Regions from separate parts of the Homo sapiens genome. Here all the other regions are linked to region 2. Evidence: fine-mapped expression QTL. A gene starts in region 2. Each other region holds a variant in brackets. All regions are shown on one strand. Distances are between the middles of the regions.

What was found. PIP is the estimated chance that this variant, and not a neighbour inherited with it, causes the effect.
Region 1: its variant is the best candidate, but not a certain one, in a credible set for the expression of ZFP90 in nucleus accumbens (GTEx, PIP 0.51).
Region 3: its variant is the best candidate, but not a certain one, in a credible set for the expression of ZFP90 in lymphoblastoid cells (TwinsUK, PIP 0.63).

The regions. Positions count from the first base shown.
Region 1 is chr16:68,562,629-68,565,396 of GRCh38, forward strand. It overlaps ZFP90 (ZFP90 zinc finger protein), which reads left to right. Exons shown (of 5, transcript NM_001305203.2): 5 at 416-2,768. The coding sequence ends at 2,070. Among named protein-coding and RNA genes, the nearest start is that of ZFP90, 25 kb to the left of the region's middle. The variant A/G (reference allele first, on the strand shown) is at 1,476.
Region 2 is chr16:68,537,842-68,540,609 of GRCh38, forward strand. It overlaps ZFP90 (ZFP90 zinc finger protein), which reads left to right and starts at 1,450. Exons shown (of 5, transcript NM_001305203.2): 1 at 1,450-1,638; 2 at 1,917-1,984. The coding sequence starts at 1,952.
Region 3 is chr16:68,584,474-68,587,241 of GRCh38, forward strand. No RefSeq gene overlaps it. Among named protein-coding and RNA genes, the nearest start is that of ZFP90, 47 kb to the left of the region's middle. The variant A/G (reference allele first, on the strand shown) is at 1,711.

The DNA.
Region 1 (2,768 bases), 25 kb after region 2:
CTGAGAGTTGACAGTAAAGAAATTATGAAATGGATATATTAGGAAGACAGATTTTGTGGTGGTTTATAAAAGGATAGGAGGCATGGAGAGCATATAGGATCCTAAGATGGGCTGTGATCCTGTTCCATTTGTATCTGTGCCTAACACAGTCCTGCTCACTTATTTCCTTATTTTCTAACCAACCCTCCTAGATGGGCTTTCCTCATTCTCTGGACTTACCACATACTCTGAATCTGCAGTCTTTGCTATCATTTCTTCACTTTTCCTTTTCTCCATTTTGGGTCGTCTTCTCAGGATACAGGAGTAATTTCAAAACAGAGTCATATGTAACTTATATGTCTTTCTTCATTCCTACTCTAGCAGTGTATTTCAACAGGAAGGAATAGGGGACTTTTGTACTTTGGATTTCTTTCAGACTGGAAGACCAGGCCTGAAGTCAAATCATCACATTTGCAGCAGGATGTATCAGAAGTATCCCACTGCACACATGATCTCTTACATGCTACATTAGAAGACTCCTGGGATGTTAGCAGCCAGTTAGACAGGCAACAGGAAAACTGGAAGAGACATCTGGGATCAGAGGCATCCACCCAGAAGAAAATAATTACACCACAAGAAAATTTTGAGCAAAATAAATTTGGTGAAAATTCTAGATTGAACACCAATTTGGTTACACAACTGAACATTCCTGCAAGAATAAGGCCTAGTGAATGTGAGACCCTTGGAAGCAATTTGGGACATAATGCAGACTTACTTAATGAGAATAATATTCTTGCAAAAAAGAAACCCTATAAGTGTGATAAATGTAGAAAAGCCTTTATTCATAGATCATCGCTTACTAAACATGAGAAAACACATAAAGGAGAGGGAGCTTTCCCTAATGGAACAGATCAAGGAATTTATCCTGGAAAGAAACACCATGAATGTACCGACTGTGGGAAAACCTTTCTCTGGAAGACACAGCTTACTGAGCATCAGAGAATTCACACTGGGGAGAAACCCTTTGAATGCAATGTATGTGGAAAGGCCTTCAGGCATAGCTCATCTCTTGGTCAGCATGAGAATGCTCATACCGGAGAGAAACCCTATCAGTGTAGTCTCTGTGGGAAAGCCTTCCAGCGCAGCTCCTCCCTTGTTCAACACCAGCGAATTCACACTGGAGAGAAACCCTATCGATGTAATCTATGTGGGAGGTCCTTTAGGCATGGCACATCCCTCACTCAACACGAGGTCACACACAGTGGAGAGAAGCCCTTCCAGTGTAAGGAATGTGGGAAAGCCTTTAGTCGATGTTCTTCCCTTGTCCAACATGAGAGGACTCATACTGGAGAGAAACCTTTTGAATGTAGCATATGTGGGAGGGCTTTTGGTCAGAGCCCATCCCTTTATAAACATATGAGGATTCATAAGAGAGGCAAACCTTACCAAAGCAGTAACTACAGCATAGATTTCAAGCACAGCACATCTCTCACTCA[A/G]GATGAAAGCACTCTTACCGAAGTGAAATCCTACCATTGTAATGACTGTGGGGAAGACTTTAGTCACATTACAGACTTTACTGACCATCAGAGGATCCATACTGCAGAGAACCCCTATGATTGTGAGCAGGCTTTTAGTCAGCAAGCTATTTCTCATCCTGGAGAGAAACCCTATCAATGTAATGTATGTGGGAAAGCTTTCAAAAGGAGTACAAGTTTCATAGAGCATCACAGAATTCATACTGGAGAGAAACCCTATGAATGTAATGAGTGTGGAGAAGCCTTTAGTCGACGCTCATCGCTTACTCAACATGAGAGAACCCACACTGGAGAGAAACCCTATGAATGTATTGACTGTGGGAAAGCCTTTAGTCAAAGTTCATCTCTCATTCAGCATGAGAGAACTCATACTGGAGAGAAGCCCTATGAATGTAATGAATGTGGGAGAGCCTTCCGAAAAAAAACCAACCTGCATGATCATCAGAGAATTCATACTGGAGAAAAACCCTATTCTTGTAAGGAATGTGGGAAAAACTTCAGCCGAAGTTCAGCTCTTACTAAACACCAGAGAATTCATACTCGAAATAAACTCTAGGAACCGTGAAATTAAGGAATTTGCAGAATGCTTTAGCTAAAATGTTCTGATTCAGGATCAGAGGATTCTTAGAGAGCTTGGGAATGTAATGAATTACGTGTGTGTTTATACGTTGTGTGTGGAGAAAACTGCCAGTAGACAGATTTTTTTTTTTTAACATAAAGACACATTCTCAGATCTGATTACAGACTAGTGTAAAAACAGCTACATGTATGTAGCTGGTTGGGGATGATATGCCTGTATGTTGGACTTTGCTTTTGAATATATGTATGCAGGATATCATCAAGTTTCAACATCTTGACTTGTGACCCCCAATGTCAACAGCTTTTTTAAAAAGCAAATTCCTGCAGTAATGACCAAAACCCATTTTAAAAATTGCTTGACAACTGCACTCAACTGCAGCTCTTACATTAACTTCACCATGGAAACCAGTTCCAACTCCAGGAAGTCACCATTCAAAGAATTAGATCAACTAGCCCAACCACTTCATTGTACAGATGAAGACTGAAAGCCAAAGATGTGAAGTGGTTTCCACAGTATGATACAGCCTATAAGGGTAAAGCTGGGTTAAAAATGCAGGTTTCCTGGATTTGGGGCCCCATGGCCTTGCCAGTGAAAAGGTTATTTTTGGACTCAGAGGGCTTTAAAATAAATTTTAAGATGTATCAGATACACAAACATTTAATGGGCACCTATGG
Region 2 (2,768 bases):
TTACTTGTTAGCCCCTTGCGCAGGATTTTGTGTTTGGGACAAGCCAACAGTGATGGAAATTTTCTCCCTTTTTTGTTTTGTTTTTTTTGAGATGGAGTTTTGCTGTTGTTGCCCAGGTTGGAGTGCAATGGTGCAATCTCGGCTCACCACAACCTCTGCCTCCCAGATTCAAGCGATTCTCCTGCCTCAGCTTTCTGAGTAGCTGGGATTACAGGCATGCGCCACCAAGCCTGGCTAATTTTGTATTTTTAGTAGAGACGAGCTATCTCCATGTTGGTCAGGCTGGTCTCGAACTCCTGACCTCAGGTGATCCGCCAGCCTCAGCCTCCCAAAGTGCTGGGATCACAGGCTTGAGCCACCGCACCCGGCATAAAGCATTTATTTTTGAATGTTCATATTTTTGATAAAGCAGTGTGACATCAGGAACATTTCGTTGCAGTCATTTTCTACCATGTTGGTATGCAATGCTCTAATGTTAAGAAATCAAGCTGAAATCTAGGAAATGTAGCCTGAATGTCTGTGATATATAAGACATAATTACATAAACGTAATAGCTGTATCTAAAAGTTGACCTATCTTTGTGTTGAAAATTTCCATCGGGCCGGGCGCGGTTGCCCATGCCTGTAATCCCAGCACTTTGGGAGGCCGAGGCGAGTTCGAGACCAGCATGACCAACATGGAGAAAACCTGTCTCTACTAAATATACAAAATTAGACGGGCCTGGTGACGCATCGCATGCCTGTAATCCCAGCTACTCGGGAGGCTGAGGCGGGAGAATCGCTTGAACCCAGGAGGCGGAGGCTGCGGTGAGCCAAAATCGCGCCATTGCACTCCAACCTAGGCAACAAGAGCGAAACTGTGTCTCAAAAAAAAAAAAGAAAATTTCCATCATTGTTTGCTTGTCCCAAACAAAATCCTGCGTAAGGGGATACGAAGTAATGAAATAACACGGCAGTAGATCTGCCTTTGCACATTGCTCAGGAGGCCACGGATTTGTCCGAAGTTTCTTTTTTCTCTAAAATGAGAAATGGAAAATTGCCTTTTGAAGAAGATGTAAATGCCCCACCCTCTGACGCTGTCTCACTCCCTTCCTGTGTCACTCTTACCGCTGAAGTCAGGACCTGACATTATCTTGTTGACATGTTTGCGTTTTTATCGTCAGCCTCGTCGAAAGGGGCGTACGATTGCTCCCCGAAACCAGGGTCTTTCCCGGCCGATTCCCCAGCTAGCAACAAGCCCCTTGCAAAGAGGAGGCGGACAGTGACTGGAATACAGGGACACGCACACTCGAGCCACACTGGCCGCCTCCCTCGGCCCTCGCAAGGGTCCCTAACGCGCCTTCGGAAGCCGCCTAGGCGGGGCCTGCGCGCGCGGGCCTCTGGGAAGTGTAGTTCGCGCGCCCGGCGTGGACCCGGGGTTGCAGGAGCGAGGCTCCGAGTGCGCAGGCGCACTTCCAGTTCTGCCCCACCGCTGCGGCCATTGTCCGACCCCGGTGCGGCTGAGGCCCCTTTGGGCAGCCCCTCCGCAGATCAGAATTGGAGATAACCGAGGCTTCGGCGGGGGCGGGAGGAGCTGCCCGAGGCTCTGGGTGGGCCGGAGGTCGCGAAATCCGGAGCCCCCCAGAGGCGGTGATTCTGAGTGCGCGGGTCTGGGCGGGACCCCTCCTGGGTTTGGCGGGTGTCAGCCGGGCCTCGCCCACCACCCTGCGAAGGGGACTGGGCGTGGCCGGAGGGGGGTGTCCGGGAGGCCGCTGAGCCTTTCATTTCGGGGATGGGGAGCGGCAGGCCCGGGCTGGTTCCACGGTCCTCGCCACCATCTCCCCTGGAGATGTGGTTTAGGGGCGGAGGTGGGGCGGGGCGGGGCGGGGTGGGGTCGGTGTTGCAGCGGGGTGAGTGGGCCCTGTCCTTTCTCCCCAGCTCCTGCCCCGGAGCCGGGCCCTGGCGAGGCAGGAATGGCCCCGAGGCCTCCGACCGCCGCGCCCCAGGTGAGCAACGCGTTCCTAACCTCCTGGGCATCCCATCCATCTATCCATCCCATCTCCCAAGGGTGTTTGGAGCAGTCATTGTTCTCTGCCTGGCGACTCCCTTACTTGCTTGGCTCGATCGGAGCCTCCTGGCCATGGAAAACCCCAGGCTTTGGGGAGCTGGATTCCCAAAGGGGAGGCTGCTCTGTGGGGTAGAGAGGGCCAGTGTGGTGCGATCTTGTGGGAGGAGTTGAGATTGGATGCGTTGGGAAGTGTCAGTTTTGAGAGTCCTGAATGCCACGCCAGTTTTTTGAACTCTTGTCAATAAGAAATGGAGAGAGTGGGGTCACAGGATGGAACACTGTAGAGGAGGAAGTGACTGTCGGCAAGTGTGGAGAGAGGAGCCCCAGCTTCTGACCCAGGGCCCATAGAGAGTCCGTAAGGGGCCGTAGAAGCCTGGTTAGAACATGTCTAGGAAGAGGCTGGAGATGGGCTTTCTTGGGCAAGGAGGCAAAAACAAAACAAAATAAAAAACAACCAAAAATAAAACCAGGGCTGATTCTCCCAGAGCTTTTTGTGTCTGTCCTTTTCTGCTTTAACAAAAATGTAATAGAGCAACTCACTCCCCACCGCCAGAAGTCCAGCCTTCACCTTAATGTGAGGCTGATTCGTGAACCCATTTATTCTTGTGGCAGAGGGGGCATTTTCTAGAAGCGTCACAACTCTAAGGTTATCCATTGATTTACATATTGGTGAAAATACATCAAGATCCAGATGGTATCTGTATCTTTGAATCTACATTCTC
Region 3 (2,768 bases), 47 kb after region 2:
TTAGTTTAATTAGATCCCATTTGTCAATTTTGTCTTTTGTTGCCATTGCTTTTGGTGTTTTGGACATGAAGTCCTTGCCCACGCCTATGTCCTGAATGGTAATGCCTAGGTTTTCTTCTAGGGTTTTTATGGTTTTAGGTCTAACATTTAAATCTTTAATCCATCTTGAATTGATTTTTGTATAAGGTGTAAGGAAGGGATCCAGTTTCAGCTTTCTACATATGGCGACCCAGTTTTCCCAGCACCATTTATTAAATAGGGAATCCTTTCCCCATTGCTTGTTTTTCTCAGGTTTGTCAAAGATCAGATAGTTGTAGATATGTGGCATTATTTCTGAGGGCTCTGTTCTGTTCCATTGATCTATATCTCTGTTTTGGTACCAGTACCATGCTGTTTTGGTTACTGTAGCCTTGTAGTATAGTTTGAAGTCAGGTAGTGTGATGCCTCCAGCTTTGTTCTTTTGGCTTAGGATTGACTTGGCGATGCGGGCTCTTTTTTGGTTCCATATGAACTTTAAAGTAGTTTTTTCCAATTCTGTGAAGAAAGTCATTGGTAGCTTGATGGGGATGGCATTGAATCTGTAAATTACCTTGGGGAGTATGGCCATTTTCACGATATTGATTCTTCCTACCCATGAGCATGGAATGTTCTTCCATTTGTTTGTGTCCTCTTTTATTTCCTTGAGCAGTGGTTTGTAGTTCTCCTTGAAGAGGTCCTTCACATCCCTTGTAAGTTGGATTCCTAGGTATTTTATTCTCTTTGAAGCAATTGTGAATGGGAGTTCACTCATGATTTGGCTCTCTGTTTGTCTGTTGTTGGTGTATAAGAATGCTTGTGATTTTTGTACATTGATTTTGTATCCTGAGACTTTGCTGAAGTTGCTTATCAGCTTAAGGAGATTTTGGGCTGAGACGATGGGGTTTTCTAGATAAACAATCATGTCGTCTGCAAACGGACAATTTGACTTCCTCTTTTCCTAATTGAATACCCTTTATTTCCTTCTCCTGCCTGATTGCCCTGGCCAGAACTTCCAACACTATGTTGAATAGGAGCGGTGAGAGAGGGCATCCCTGTCTTGTGCCAGTTTTCAAAGGGAATGCTTCCAGTTTTTGCCCATTCAGTATGATATTGGCTGTGGGTTTGTCATAGATAGCTCTTATTATTTTGAAATACGTCCCATCAATACCTAATTTATTGAGAGTTTTTAGCATGAAGGGTTGTTGAATTTTGTCAAAGGCTTTTTCTGCATCTATTGAGATAATCATGTGGTTTTTGTCTTTGGCTCTGTTTATATGCTGGATTACATTTATTGATTTGCGTATATTGAACCAGCCTTGCATCCCAGGGATGACGCCCACTTGATCATGGTGGATAAGCTTTTTGATGTGCTGCTGGATTCGGTTTGCCAGTATTTTATTGAGGATTTTTGCATCAATGTTCATCAAGGATATTGGTCTAAAATTCTCTTTTTTGGTTGTGTCTCTGCCCGGCTTTGGTATCAGAATGATGCTGGCCTCATAAAATGAGTTAGGGAGGATTCCCTCTTTTTCTATTGATTGGAATAGTTTCAGAAGGAATGGTACCAGTTCCTCCTTGTACCTCTGGTAGAATTCGGCTGTGAATCCATCTGGTCCTGGACTCTTTTTGGTTGGTAAACTATTGATTATTGCCACAATTTCAGAGACTGTTATTGGTCTATTCAGAGATTCA[A/G]CTTCTTCCTGGTTTAGTCTTGGGAGAGTGTATGTGTCGAGGAATGTATCCATTTCTTCTAGATTTTCTAGTTTATTTGCGTAGAGGTGTTTGTAGTATTCTCTGATGGTAGTTTGTATTTCTGTGGGATATCTGTGATATCCCCTTTATCATTTTTTATTGTGTCTATTTGATTCTTCTCTCTTTTTTTCTTTATTAGTCTTGCTAGCGGTCTATCAATTTTGTTGATCCTTTCAAAAAACCAGCTCCTGGATTCATTGATTTTTTGAAGGGTTTTTTGTGTCTCTATTTCCTTCAGTTCTGCTCTGATTTTAGTTATTTCTTGCCTTCTGCTAGCTTTTGAATGTGTTTGCTCTTGCTTTTCTAGTTCTTTTAATTGTGATGTTAGGGTGTCAATTTTGGATCTTTCCTGCTTTCTCTTGTAGGCATTTAGTGCTATAAATTTCCCTCTACACACTGCTTTGAATGCGTCCCAGAGATTCTGGCATGTTGTGTCTTTGTTCTCGTTGGTTTCAAAGAACATCTTTATTTCTGCCTTCATTTCGTTATGTACCCAGTAGTCATTCAGGAGCAGGTTGTTCAGTTTCCATGTAGTTGAGCGGCTTTGAGTGAGATTCTTAATCCTGAGTTCTAGTTTGATTGCACTGTGGTCTGAGAGATAGTTTGTTATAATTTCTGTTCTTTTACATTTGCTGAGGAGAGCTTTACTTCCAACTATGTGGTCAATTTTGGAATAGGTGTGGTGTGGTGCTGAAAAAAATGTATATTCTGTTGATTAGGGGTGGAGAGTTCTGTAGATGTCTATTAGGTCTGCTTGGTGCAGAGCTGAGTTCAATTCCTGGGTATCCTTGTTGACTTTCTGTCTCGTTGATCTGTCTAATGTTGACAGTGGGGTGTTAAAGTCTCCCATTATTAATGTGTGGGAGTCTAAGTCTCTTTGTAGGTCACTCAGGACTTGCTTTATGAATCTGGGTGCTCCTGTATTGGGTGCATAAATATTTAGGATAGTTAGCTCCTCTTGTTGAATTGATCCCTTTACCATTATGTAATGGCCTTCT